Homo sapiens: one gene and its partner. The protein of the gene in region 1 interacts with the protein of each later gene in a pairwise test. Each region holds a gene or a part of one and is shown on either strand. Other genes may lie near its edges. The genes, in order: RAET1G and KLRC4-KLRK1.

Region 1 (4,045 bases):
TCCTCAGGTGCAGCTCCCACACCCTGTCCCACCTCCCACAGTCCACGTGGGCTACTGCTGAAGATCCTCTGTCATCCAGGCCCTTCCTCCTCTAGCACTCCTGGCACCTCTCTAGCAAGGTCCTGTGTTGACCGATGTGGACAGAGGGGCAGTGGGACATGTCTGGGGACATGTGGTTTCTCAGCAGGCAGGGACCTCCTCCTCCTCTTTGCCCTCATGGAAGTGGGGAGCACTCGCCTTAATCTTGTGGACACCACAGTTCTGGAGGAGGCACTCCTTGCTGGGCCAGCCCAGCCCTCCAGAGGCTTCCTCTTATTGTCACAGTGTGGAGGAGGGGTATCTAGGGGTCTTTTCCTCCCCACCCACCCCTCACCTGCCTTTCTCCACAGACCCTCACTCTCTTTGCTATGACATCACCGTCATCCCTAAGTTCAGACCTGGACCACGGTGGTGTGCGGTTCAAGGCCAGGTGGATGAAAAGACTTTTCTTCACTATGACTGTGGCAGCAAGACAGTCACACCCGTCAGTCCCCTGGGGAAGAAACTAAATGTCACAACGGCCTGGAAAGCACAGAACCCAGTACTGAGAGAGGTGGTGGACATACTTACAGAGCAACTGCTTGACATTCAGCTGGAGAATTACATACCCAAGGGTAAGTTTCAGATGGCCCAGGACAGCAGGGAGCAGATACAGTGGTAGGTTAGAGGCATTTATAGTTTTCATGTAAAAATACAAATAGGAAGGTCATCTCACCCCGCAAGACGTCTAGAGGCAAGGCCAGGATGTGGCAGAGCAAGTAAGACCAGGAAATTGCAAGTGGAAGAGGATGGGGGCTCAATATCTGTCAAGGCCAGAGCTGATCTCTCTTTGATGGGGGCAGAACCCCTCACCCTGCAGGCCAGGATGTCTTGTGAGCAGAAAGCCGAAGGACACGGCAGTGGATCTTGGCAGCTCAGTTTCGATGGACAGATCTTCCTCCTCTTTGACTCAGAAAACAGAATGTGGACAACGGTTCATCCTGGAGCCAGAAAGATGAAAGAAAAGTGGGAGAATGACAAGGATATGACCATGTCCTTCCATTACATCTCAATGGGAGACTGCACAGGATGGCTTGAGGACTTCTTGATGGGCATGGACAGCACCCTGGAGCCAAGTGCAGGAGGTAACAGGAGAAAAAGAAATGGGGATCTCCAATGAGATCAGAAATGGGGATCTCAAGAAACTAATTCTTGAGTTCAGCTTCAATCATCCCAGTGTACACGTTTATGTTAAAATGACCTCCTCGTGGGGTGCTCCTCCTGGGGGTGCTGGCGTGCCTGTGCTCTCCCACCCTCCTCTTCCTTCTCCCTCCTGACTCCTCTTCCTCACTGCACTTGCTTCTGTTCCCCACACTGTGGATTTCTCACCAGCCTCGAAACTGCAGGTGTCACTATTTTCAGGCCTTTCTCCTTAGTGTTCCCTCTTGAGAATCACTTTTCCTTTCCTCCTCTGGTCTGTTTCTGGAAATCCATCAAAACCTCCTCCAAGGCCAGCCTCGTGACCCTCCCCTCCCGCACCCTGGAGCATCACCTCCTCTTCCGCCACAGCAGGAGGGTGGGCTTTGCTGTCACCTTGCTTCCCTCAGCAGCTCTGTGAGCTCCCTGAGGCCAAGGGACACCCCCTCTCCCTTCCTACCCCAGGAACTCTCCCAGGGGCTGCCCCATAGCAGAGGGGACAAAACCTCTGCCTTCCAGGATGACCTGGGTCAGCAGGAGCTGAGGAGGCATCTCCTCAGATTTGGGGCCTGGACAAGGGTTGTCACTCTTGTGCTTCCATTTCAGCACCACCCACCATGTCCTCAGGCACAGCCCAACCCAGGGCCACGGCCACCACCCTCATCCTTTGCTGCCTCCTCATCATGTGTCTCCTCATATGCTCCAGGCACAGTCTGACCCAAAGCCATGGCCACCACCCTCAGTCCCTGCAGCCTCCTCCTCATCCTCCCCTGCTTCATCCTACCTGGCTGCTGAGGAGAGTCCTTTGGAGTGACAGGTATGGGGGCAGAATTGGGAGTGGAGCAAAGGGCAGGTGGGTGAGGAGGGAGGACAGGGATGGAGAATTCCCAGAGTCCCACTCCCTATGGCTGGGACCTTCTCATCCTAACATGAGACAGGTGAATGAGACCTTGTGTTGCTTGTTGGAAATGACCTGGGCAGCTCTGCCCTGAGTTCTGATGGATTCTCACCATCAAAGGCCAGAGGGAAAGGCGCAGTGGTGCCATACCAAGGCTCAGGGTCTGTTGAGCTTGAGAGGGTTTAGCAAGTTCAGGCCTGATTCAGAGCAGGTTTCTGTTCAGGAAGGGTGTGTGGCCTGCAGGCAGCAGGAATTCAGACATGGGCAGTCCTCTTAATTGGGTTAGGTGCATCAGGGTAGCTTTACATGAGGTATGACAAGGGAAGGGGGATTCCATCTCTGAGGCTAAGAGAGAGATATGTGTGGGCGGCAAGCCACCCAGGTGCCAAGGCAAGAGACTGAAGGCACAAGCTGTTCCAGTATAATAAAGAAAATACTTAAAATAAGAATAGTTGTATTAGACGTAGAATACAGACATGATTATCTATGAATATTATCAATCATTAGTCTGTAGTGTTACTCTTTTTTCCAATGTTATAATAATCTCTGTTCCACAATTATAACCCAGGAAAAACCAGGCCATGCAGAGACAGGAGCTGAAGGGACACGGTGAGAAGTGACCAGAAGACAAGAGTGTGAGCCCTCTGTCATGCCCAGACAGGGCCAGTAGTGGGCTCCTCAGTCTAGCAGTAGCGCCAGTGCCTGGGAAGGCACTTGTTACTTAGCAGACCGGGAAAAGGAGTTTCCCTTTCCCCGGGGGAGTTAGAGAAGACTCTGCTCCACCACCTCTTGTGGAAGGCCTGACATCAGTCAAGCCTGCCCGCAGCCATCCGGAGGCCTAAACGTCTCCCTGTGATGCTGTGCTTCAGGGTCACGCTCCTGGTCCACTTTCATGTTCCGCCCTGTACACCTGGCTCCGCCTTCTAGATAGCGGTAGCAGAATTAGTGAAAGTATTGAAGTCCGAGAAATACATAGAAGAAACAATGACGTAAGCTGTCCTCTCTCTCTCCGCCTCAGCTACCAAATAGCGAAGCGCCCCTTGTCTGGTGGACACGTGACTCGCGTGACTTTACCTATCATTGGAGACGACTCACACTCCTTACCCTGCCCTCTTGCCTTGTATACAATAAATAACGGCGCAGCCAGGTATTCGGAGCCACTACAGGTCTCCATATCTTGATGGTTCCCTGGGCCCAGCTGTCTTTTCTTCCGTCTCTTTGTCTTGTGTCTTTATTTCTACGATCTCTCATCTCCGCACACGAAGAGAAAAACCCACAGGCCCTGTAGGGCTGGTCCCTACAACTATGAGTGTAATCCCAGAAGGAGGGGGCTGGGAGAGCCTTGGTACACCTAATTGAAAAGGAGGGGGCGCAGGGCTGCCTTCCCACAGAAAGTGGCTTGGGTTCCAGGAATTAAGGTGGAAGGCGAAGAGTAGAGGCTGCACATGAAAAAAATTTTTAAAAAGTCAGTCCCATGGACCCATGGGGTTCGAGTCCAGACCTTGAGGCAGCTCCCTTGCCATCACCTTCCTGCACACCCCAGATCCTGAGCCCGCTCATGGCCCTGCCAGGAGCAGAGTGGACTCAGACACGGGGGACCTGAGCTGCTGCTTAAGTCCATGGGCACCACTGGGCTGGACCAGGAATGAATAAGGTGGAACAGGGACAGTCACCTTCAGAGCTATGGGTGCTGATTGCAGTGTGAGGAGAGGCTGAGGAAGAAGGGGAAGGAGGAATATTTGCCTGCAGGCCCACCCAATGCCAAGGACACAGGAATACAGAGCCCTCTCTTTGGATGGGCTCCCCCTACCCCTTGCCATGTTTTAGGCCTTCTCATCAGATGGTAGAGAGGGCCTTGAGTGAGGGAGCAGGCCCATCACTACCAGCTTCAGTCTTGCAGGCCCCTCCACTCCATCCCCTGGTCAGGTGCAG
Region 2 (7,938 bases), on another chromosome or scaffold:
CTATCATTTCAAACAGATTTTTCTGGATTTTCTATATAAACAGCAATTTTATTTTCTTTTCTTTTTCTTTTTTTTTCTTTTTTTATTATTATTATACTTTAAGTTTTAGGGTACATGTGCACAATGTGCAGGTTTGTTACATATGTATACATGTGCCATGTTGGTGTGCTGCACCCATTAACTCGTCATTTAGCATTAGGTATATCTCCTAATGCTATCCCTCCCCCCTCCCCCCACCCCACAACAGTCCCCTGTGTGTGATGTTCCCCTGCCTGTGTCCTGCAAATAATCACACTTTTATTTTTTCTATCCATGTGCCACAACTTATTTTTTCTTCATTTATTTTCTCTGGCTAGTACTTTATATCCAGAGTTGAATAGAAGGTACAATCAAATTTTACATGTATCATATGTATCATTTTCTGGTTTTGGCAAAAAATAATTCAACATATTATTCATATTTACAAAGTTTGGTGTTTTTTTCATCATATCTTTCTTATATTGAAGTGGTTTTATAATATTCCTTTTTTCAATAGATGTTATCAATTGTAACATTTTTATTTTTTATTACTTAGAATGATATATGTTTTCTTTATACAACATTTTATAAAATAATTTTATTTTTGTCAAATGTTAAACTAGGCTTTGTTTCCGAAACAAATCCATGCTGATCATTGTATATTGCCCCTTATAAAATATCAGTGCACATACTACTATATCTAGGGTAAGATATGTTTCTTCATCTATGTTCACAAGGATATTTGACCACGTTTTTATTTGTAGCTATGTACTTGAAAAAGTTTTGGTCTCAAGGCTATCTTGGGAAGATTTTCTGTTTCTCTATAACCTGGAAGCATTTGTTAAGAGTACTGCTTTAGCCATAAAAAAGGATGAGTTCATGTCCTCTGCAGGGACATGGATGAAGCTGGAAACCATCATTCTCAGCAAACTATCACAAGGACAGAAAACCAAACACCGCATGTTCTCACTCATAGGTGGGAATTGAACAATGAGAACACATGGACACAGGGAGGAGAACATCACACACCGGGGCCTGTCGGGGGGTGGGGGGTTGGGGGAGGGATAGCATTAGGAGAAATACCTAATGTAAATGATGAGTTGATGGGTGCAGCACACCAACATGGCACATCTATGCCTATGTAACAAACCTGCACGTTGTGCACATATACCCTAGAACTTAAAATATAATAATAATAATAAAGAGTACCGCTTTATTTTTAAATGTTATCATTCACTAGTTATGCCATCTGAGTTTGCAGGCTATTTTTGTAGAAAAGTTTATGGCTAAACTGAATTTCTTCAATACATGTAGGGTTTACTCAGATTTCTATTTGAGGTACTATATTTTGGTAATGAGCATTTCCCAGGAATTTTCTATTTCATATGGACATTAAAATGCATTGATAATATAGTTTTATTGCCTGTTTAATAACTGTAAAGACCATAATGGTATTGCCATGTTTAAACTGGGAATAAAATATCTGTGCCTTTTCAAAATCTTCCCTTAGTAGTCCTTTGTGACCATTCATCTTGATAATTTCTTTGGCCCATATGTTATTTTGACATATATTACTGAATTAAAAACCATATAAGGTTCTCAGATTTTTGTTTATTGACTTCTGTTGTAGGTAAAATATAGTTAGAACATTTTCTATTAAACTGGAAATGTTCTTCATCCCTTTATAAATGTGGCTCATGTGGTGAGGTACTGGTTTTAAATGTTATTTATTTTTATTAATTAATGTTAAATTTGAATAGCTACATTTCAACTGTCTCCTAGCCAAGCTTGGCTAGCGGTACTACATTGAAATTGAGTATCCGTGTGAGTATATGTGTGTGAATGCATTCATATGAGTGATGGTTACTTGTCTAGTTTAAATCTTTCTATAGGCTCACTGGCCTGTCTTGTATTAAGCATCAAGAGAAGAGTCTTTAAAAATCCCATTTATGATTGTTTACTTGTTCACTTTATTCAACTATATGTTGAACTTGTATCATTAGGTATATGCAATGATAAAAAATATATTACTAATGGTTTGGAAAATTAATTTATCATTATGAAGTATATTTCCCCAATTTCAGTAAATTTCATCTCGGCTCACTGCAGCCTCGACCTCACCTCCAAGGCTCAAGCGATCCTCCCACCTCAGCAACCAGAGTAGCTGGCTACAGGCCAATACCATCATGCTGGCTAATTTTCGTATTTTTTTGTAGAGACGGGGTTTCATCATGTTGACCAGGCTGGTCTTGAACTCCTGAGCTCAAGAAATCAACACATCTTGGCCTCCCAAGTTGCTGGGATTACTGACACAAGCCACCGCCCCTGAGTGCTCATGTACCATTTAGCTTGTGTTTTAAAAATCTACTTTTTCTGCCCTCCCTATTTTTAACTAGATGATGTTTTAAAAATTACTTTTCCCTCTCTATATAGTTTGATTTAAGCATTAGTCATTTACAACAAATATTAATATTAAAATGCAGACCGTTATGATTGGAAAATAAATCAATGAACAATATAATGAGTGGTTTTTATATATTTCAATCTCTGGCGTGGTGATATAGTACAATATTTTTTAATTATTTATTCTTCCCAGAGACATATATTTCAATGAGAGTTATCTGATTAATTTATTTTTAAAAAACTGAATGAGAGAATTTTAAGAACTATCAAGAAAGTAAGTTGGGAATTTAACTTTGAGAATTGATGTCAATTACAATGAAGTGGAAATGTATTTTCTCAGAATAATTAGTGACAAATACATTAAATTCCTATTGGTAAGATTATTATTTTAAAAATTTATCGTCATATTAGCAGTGATATTATAGGGGTATATGATAAAGAAGTACGTAATCCCAAGTTTTAGCCACCCTGTGTAAATGTAGAAGTTAAACATGTAAGAGACTCTGAAAAAGGTATAAGATTTTAGTGTTTGTGATTGAGATGGAAACAACTGCATGGGTAGTAGTCTTTGTTCTCCCCAAATCTTGTTTACTATAAAAATAATTTCTAAAAGTCACTTGAAAATGGACAAACTAAATGACACCCTAGCAGCTCAGTCTCTTATATTCTGAGGTGTATGATGAGATAAACTGATTCAAAATGGCCCTAGTGTGAAAACTTCCTGTTCAAATCCGAAGTGATACATTGATGAGGAATCTGCTTTTTGCACTCTTGCCTCACTCTGAGCTTTCACAGGGCAGTCTGTGAAGATCAGAGATATCTGTTTTTTGTTTTTTGTTTTTTTCTGAGACAGAGTCTCGCTCTGTCGCCCAGGCTGGAGTGCAGTGGCTCCCGATCTCAGCTCACTGCAAGCTACGCCTCCCGGGTTCAACCGTTCTCCTGCCTCAGCCTCCCAAGCAGCTACAGGCGCCCGCCACCACACCCGGCTAAGTTTTTGTATTTTTAGTAGAGACGGGGTTTCACCGGATCACAGATGTCTTTTGTGTCGTTAAGAGGTAACCTGACCTCTCCACTAAGGGGCGTGTGACTTTCTGATGACAGAAGGTATGTGTTGCTAGTCTCCTGTTTCTCTACTAGCTCATCTCCTTTAGTAGAAAATTGTAAATATTAAATGTGATGCAACAAGGTAAAGTTAATACAGAATAAAATCAAAGTAGAACTGTCTGTACATGAATAATTCAGGGTGAAAAGCAACCCAAAATATAATATATGTTTGAGGATTTCTTAAAGTATTTACATTATTGCCTGTGGAGAATTAGTCAAGCACATGCATACATCATAATAGGTTTGTTAATCAATATAATTTAGAGTGAAACCGATAAATATCACGACAATGAAGAATTAATTTGAAATTTTATAATCATTATAGATGTAATAATACTTTATATTTAGCCCAGACTTTAAAAATGCATTTTTAATGGATACATCAAATTGTGAATGTCAAACATAATTTCTCATACACATACTTATATTTAATTGAAGCAGATTTTATTTTTTTAAGAATGTAATAATGAAGTAGTTTCCATAAAATGCAAATCTAAACTTAATTATAAATAATAGGACGACCTAAAAAAAATTGAGCCAAACAAACATTGCAAAAAAGATGTACTACACTGACATGAGACTCCTACCTCATTAGTTATTTTACACACTCAGTATGAATTAGAAATAATAAAATGGCAATTGTGTTAAAAATAATTAAAATATCTAATATGTATTGAGGACTAATGTGTGCCAGGTTGTATGTTAAGGGTTTTATATACATTATACTTCATAAATTATTTTCCCCAATCTAGATTAGTAAACTGGTGTTGTAGACACCAAGTAACTTTGTAAAGGTCATGCATTATGAGTTTCAAAGCTGTAATTAATTTTAGGTCTCACTGGCTACAGAGCTCATTGACTAGATTATTAAATTATATTTTCTGATTTATTACAATTACTTACACAACCAAAGTGACCCTCGCTGCCTTTTAAAACAACCACAGGGTCTTTCTGAAAGTTTGAACTTAAAGTGTTCTTTCATAGATGGTCCAAACTTATATTTATCATTTTCAGTTTTCCTATTTTAGTCATTAAATCAATTACCAATCAATTCTGTAAAATAAAGAGTTAAATCTTTTTCAGTAGTATTTAGTTTATGCATAAGTTAATGTAATGTTTTACAAGGTATAAAATATTTCTTTAAAATTTTAACAATTTTTCTGTTTTCCTCAATCATTCAGAATAAAAAACATTTGCCAAGACCTCATGCCCTTTTAGTAAACGAATGTAAGTCACTAACTTAATGTATTTTAGTATTAAAAGTTGTTCTATATGCCAACAAATTATTCCTCCATCTTTAGCGCTCAATCCTTACATTAATGAATTTTAAAATTGTCATACAATTAGTGCATTTTATTTTCAAATTTCAATTTTAGTTTTTTACACAGGTATTCTATTGGTGATAAAATATTTCTGTAGAATCTGATTTTAAATTAATAAAGATATTTATATTCAGTTACTTCTTAGTTTTCACAAATGTATTGTTTTTTATTGTTCCCATTAATAATATTATGTCAAATATAGAAGGCCTTTTAAAAAGTGACCTATTGTTTAAAGAGATTTCAGTTTAAAACTTTAGGAAATTAGTACCAGACTTTTATATTGGTCAACAGCAAAATGAACATTACTACTCAGCCTCCAACACATGCAGTTTGCCTATACCAGGGATCCTGTCAAAATATACACCACTTATAGCTTCTTAAGTGCAGTTATCATAGAGCACAGTCCCTGACATCACACAGCTGCAGAGATGAATAAACAAAGAGGAACCTACTCAGAAGTGAGTCTGGCCCAGGACCCAAAGAGGCAGCAAAGGAAACTTAAGGGCAATAAAATCTCCATTTCAGGAACCAAACAGGAAATATTCCAAGTAGAATTAAACCTTCAAAATGCTTCTTCGGATCATCAAGGGAATGACAAGACATATCACTGCAAAGGTAAAACATTAAATAGATCTTCAATATTATTGTTCTAGGATGTGCAGTTGAATGCAGAAAGGTGGGGAAAGATTAGGGAATATTTTGCACTTGTGAGAATCAGAGGTCAAAGTCAGGATCTAATATTCTAATATGAAATCTGAAGCCTGATTTTATTCAGGCATTGTTCAATTGTAATTTGTGATTAACAACTCATGGAGCATTATATTTACTGATAATGAAATGGTATATTCTGAGAGAAAGATTACTAGAGTAGATGTAGATTTAGAGGACAGAGTTTATCATTATGTTTTCCTGTGCACGTGAGTTCTCTTGTACGTAAACCTTCTCATCAACTCTCTATCTCCCCTCTCTCAGTGCCTCTTTCTCTCCCTGCAGGTTTACTGCCACCTCCAGAGAAGCTCACTGCTGAGGTCCTAGGAATCATTTGCATTGTCCTGATGGCCACTGTGTTAAAAACAATAGTTCTTATTCCTTGTAAGCATATTCTTGAAAGATTATAAGGGAACTTTTCACTATAATGATTGGAAGCGCCTTGAAACATTTCATAATAATGAGGATTAGAATTCTCTGTTTAATGTATATCTCTGAACCCCAAGATAATATGCTGCTTCTGAACTTTTCAAATTTATAAATAACAGAATAATTGTAGAAAACATTTATTTTTTTGTGTGTACTAAATATATATGTATATATGATACACACACAGAGAGATGTATTCTGATTTCATGACTCAAAGACATGTTTTAAGAGAAAAAATATTTAGAAAAACAAATTAATTTTTGAAAGTGGTTAGATCAAATACTATAAGAGATGGTGAAGTTTTATGCTAATGGCTTTAAAAATATTTGTTTTAAAGATCTCATTATTTTTATAGAAAAGTCATTTTTATTTCAGATTGTTCCAATTTAAAATAATTTTAAATTTTGTATTTCAAAGTAAGCAACTGAATTTATTATAATTTGTCTAGATATTAATTTTGTAAGAATCACTTTAATTTTTCTAGGTATTGGAGTACTGGAGCAGAACAATTTTTCCCTGAATAGAAGAATGCAGAAAGGTACATTATGATTGTCAATGTTCTGATGTTAGTACAGTTTATATTTTGTCTCTAAAGGGATGCAAAATGATAATAAAATGTTTTGGGAAAATAAACTATAACAATGAGCCATAAATGTTTATAAAATAAAGATTATATGAGGGCATGTCCTTTTCTCCAATAATAAGTAGAAATGCTCAGTTAAAATCATTATACCCTCTTGTTGCATTTAATTAACTGAAATTTCCTACTACTATAAGATGATAAGAGATAAATAATTTTACTATACTTAAAAAGCAGTTTTGTTCAGTGATGTTTAAGATGTGTAGGGTGGATTTTTGTTGGCGGGCTTGTTTTGTATGGGAACACAATTAAGGGATGAGAGGTGGACCTTTTATTGTGCATGTGCGTATGAGTGACTCGTTATTTTAAAATATATATTTAACAACTTATGAGGATGCAGATATTGTGTACCTGTATGTTTATAGCTTTGCAAATATATAAAATAATTTTCATTTGTAAACATATTGTTTTGCATAGTAATTCATATTTTTATTTAGCACGTCATTGTGGCCATTGTCCTGAGGAGTGGATTACATATTCCAACAGTTGTTATTACATTGGTAAGGAAAGAAGAACTTGGGAAGAAAGAGTTTGCTGGCCTGTGCTTCGAAGAACTCTGATCTGCTTTCTATAGATAATGAGGAAGAAATGGTAAGACGTAAATGTTTCAACACTTTACTAAAAGCTTATTTCTGTCAATATCATATTTGTAGAAATCATCCATATGTTTATACATATATTTACTTCATATATTTTTAAGTCTGTGTAGTATTCAACTGACTTCATAATATTTTTATATTCATATACTGTTAATGCACATTTGGTTATTTCCAGTTTTGCTTTTCATGGAAACCCATGCTTCTATAAATGTTTTTATCACAAAATAAATATAAAGAAAACTAAGCATGTCATGGTCATGCATATTGATCACAAAGTGAATGGATTCATGATACAGGGCAGATCATGAAATAGAAGTTTCCAGCCCCAGCAGTCCTGCTCCTGTGTATGCCTTCCTCACTTTTCCTGCCTCCTCTCCAAACCTTTGTATTGATGTTTAATGTGATAAATAAGCTTTGCCTGTTCCAGAATTTATGTCAAGGGAATCATACAATGTGTATTTTCATGTGTGTCTTCTTTTACTCCTATATGATATTTGTGCAATAATGCAGTTAGCTGTTGTTTGTTGCTTTTCATTGCTGCATGATGTGCATAGAACATTTACAATCTGTTCAGTCCTGTGTCTCTGGATGGGGAAGTGAGTCTCGTGCCCTCAGGAACAAAGAGGAACCTGGATGGGCACGTGTAGTCATGCGGTTCCTTTGCTGATCCCTCTCACCGCACCTACCCTGATGTCTTTTGGTTTGGGAGGAGAAG

What was found.
Region 2: the proteins of RAET1G (region 1) and KLRC4-KLRK1 interact in binary tests that used the Homo sapiens proteins (3 or more experiments, as listed by UniProt).

What each region holds. Positions count from the first base shown.
Region 1 is NC_000006.12:149,916,161-149,920,205, reverse strand, and holds the end of RAET1G (UL-16 binding protein 5 preproprotein), read left to right. Parts: intron 1-389; coding exon 390-653; intron 654-697; exon of another isoform or gene 698-881; coding exon 882-1,163; intron 1,164-1,821; coding exon 1,822-2,032; coding exon of another isoform or gene 2,033-2,207; exon of another isoform or gene 2,208-2,681; coding exon of another isoform or gene 2,682-2,733; exon of another isoform or gene 2,734-3,131; coding exon 3,132-3,294; 3' UTR 3,295-3,328; downstream 3,329-4,045.
Region 2 is NC_000012.12:10,406,913-10,414,850, reverse strand, and holds the start of KLRC4-KLRK1 (NKG2-D type II integral membrane protein), read left to right. Parts: upstream 1-4,704; 5' UTR 4,705-4,752; intron 4,753-5,093; exon of another isoform or gene 5,094-5,275; coding exon of another isoform or gene 5,276-5,462; intron 5,463-5,840; coding exon of another isoform or gene 5,841-5,939; intron 5,940-6,468; coding exon of another isoform or gene 6,469-6,522; intron 6,523-7,061; coding exon of another isoform or gene 7,062-7,198; 5' UTR 7,199-7,215; exon of another isoform or gene 7,216-7,467; intron 7,468-7,938. Other genes in the region: KLRC4 (NKG2-F type II integral membrane protein), read left to right, coding at 5,276-5,462, 5,841-5,939, 6,469-6,522, 7,062-7,198.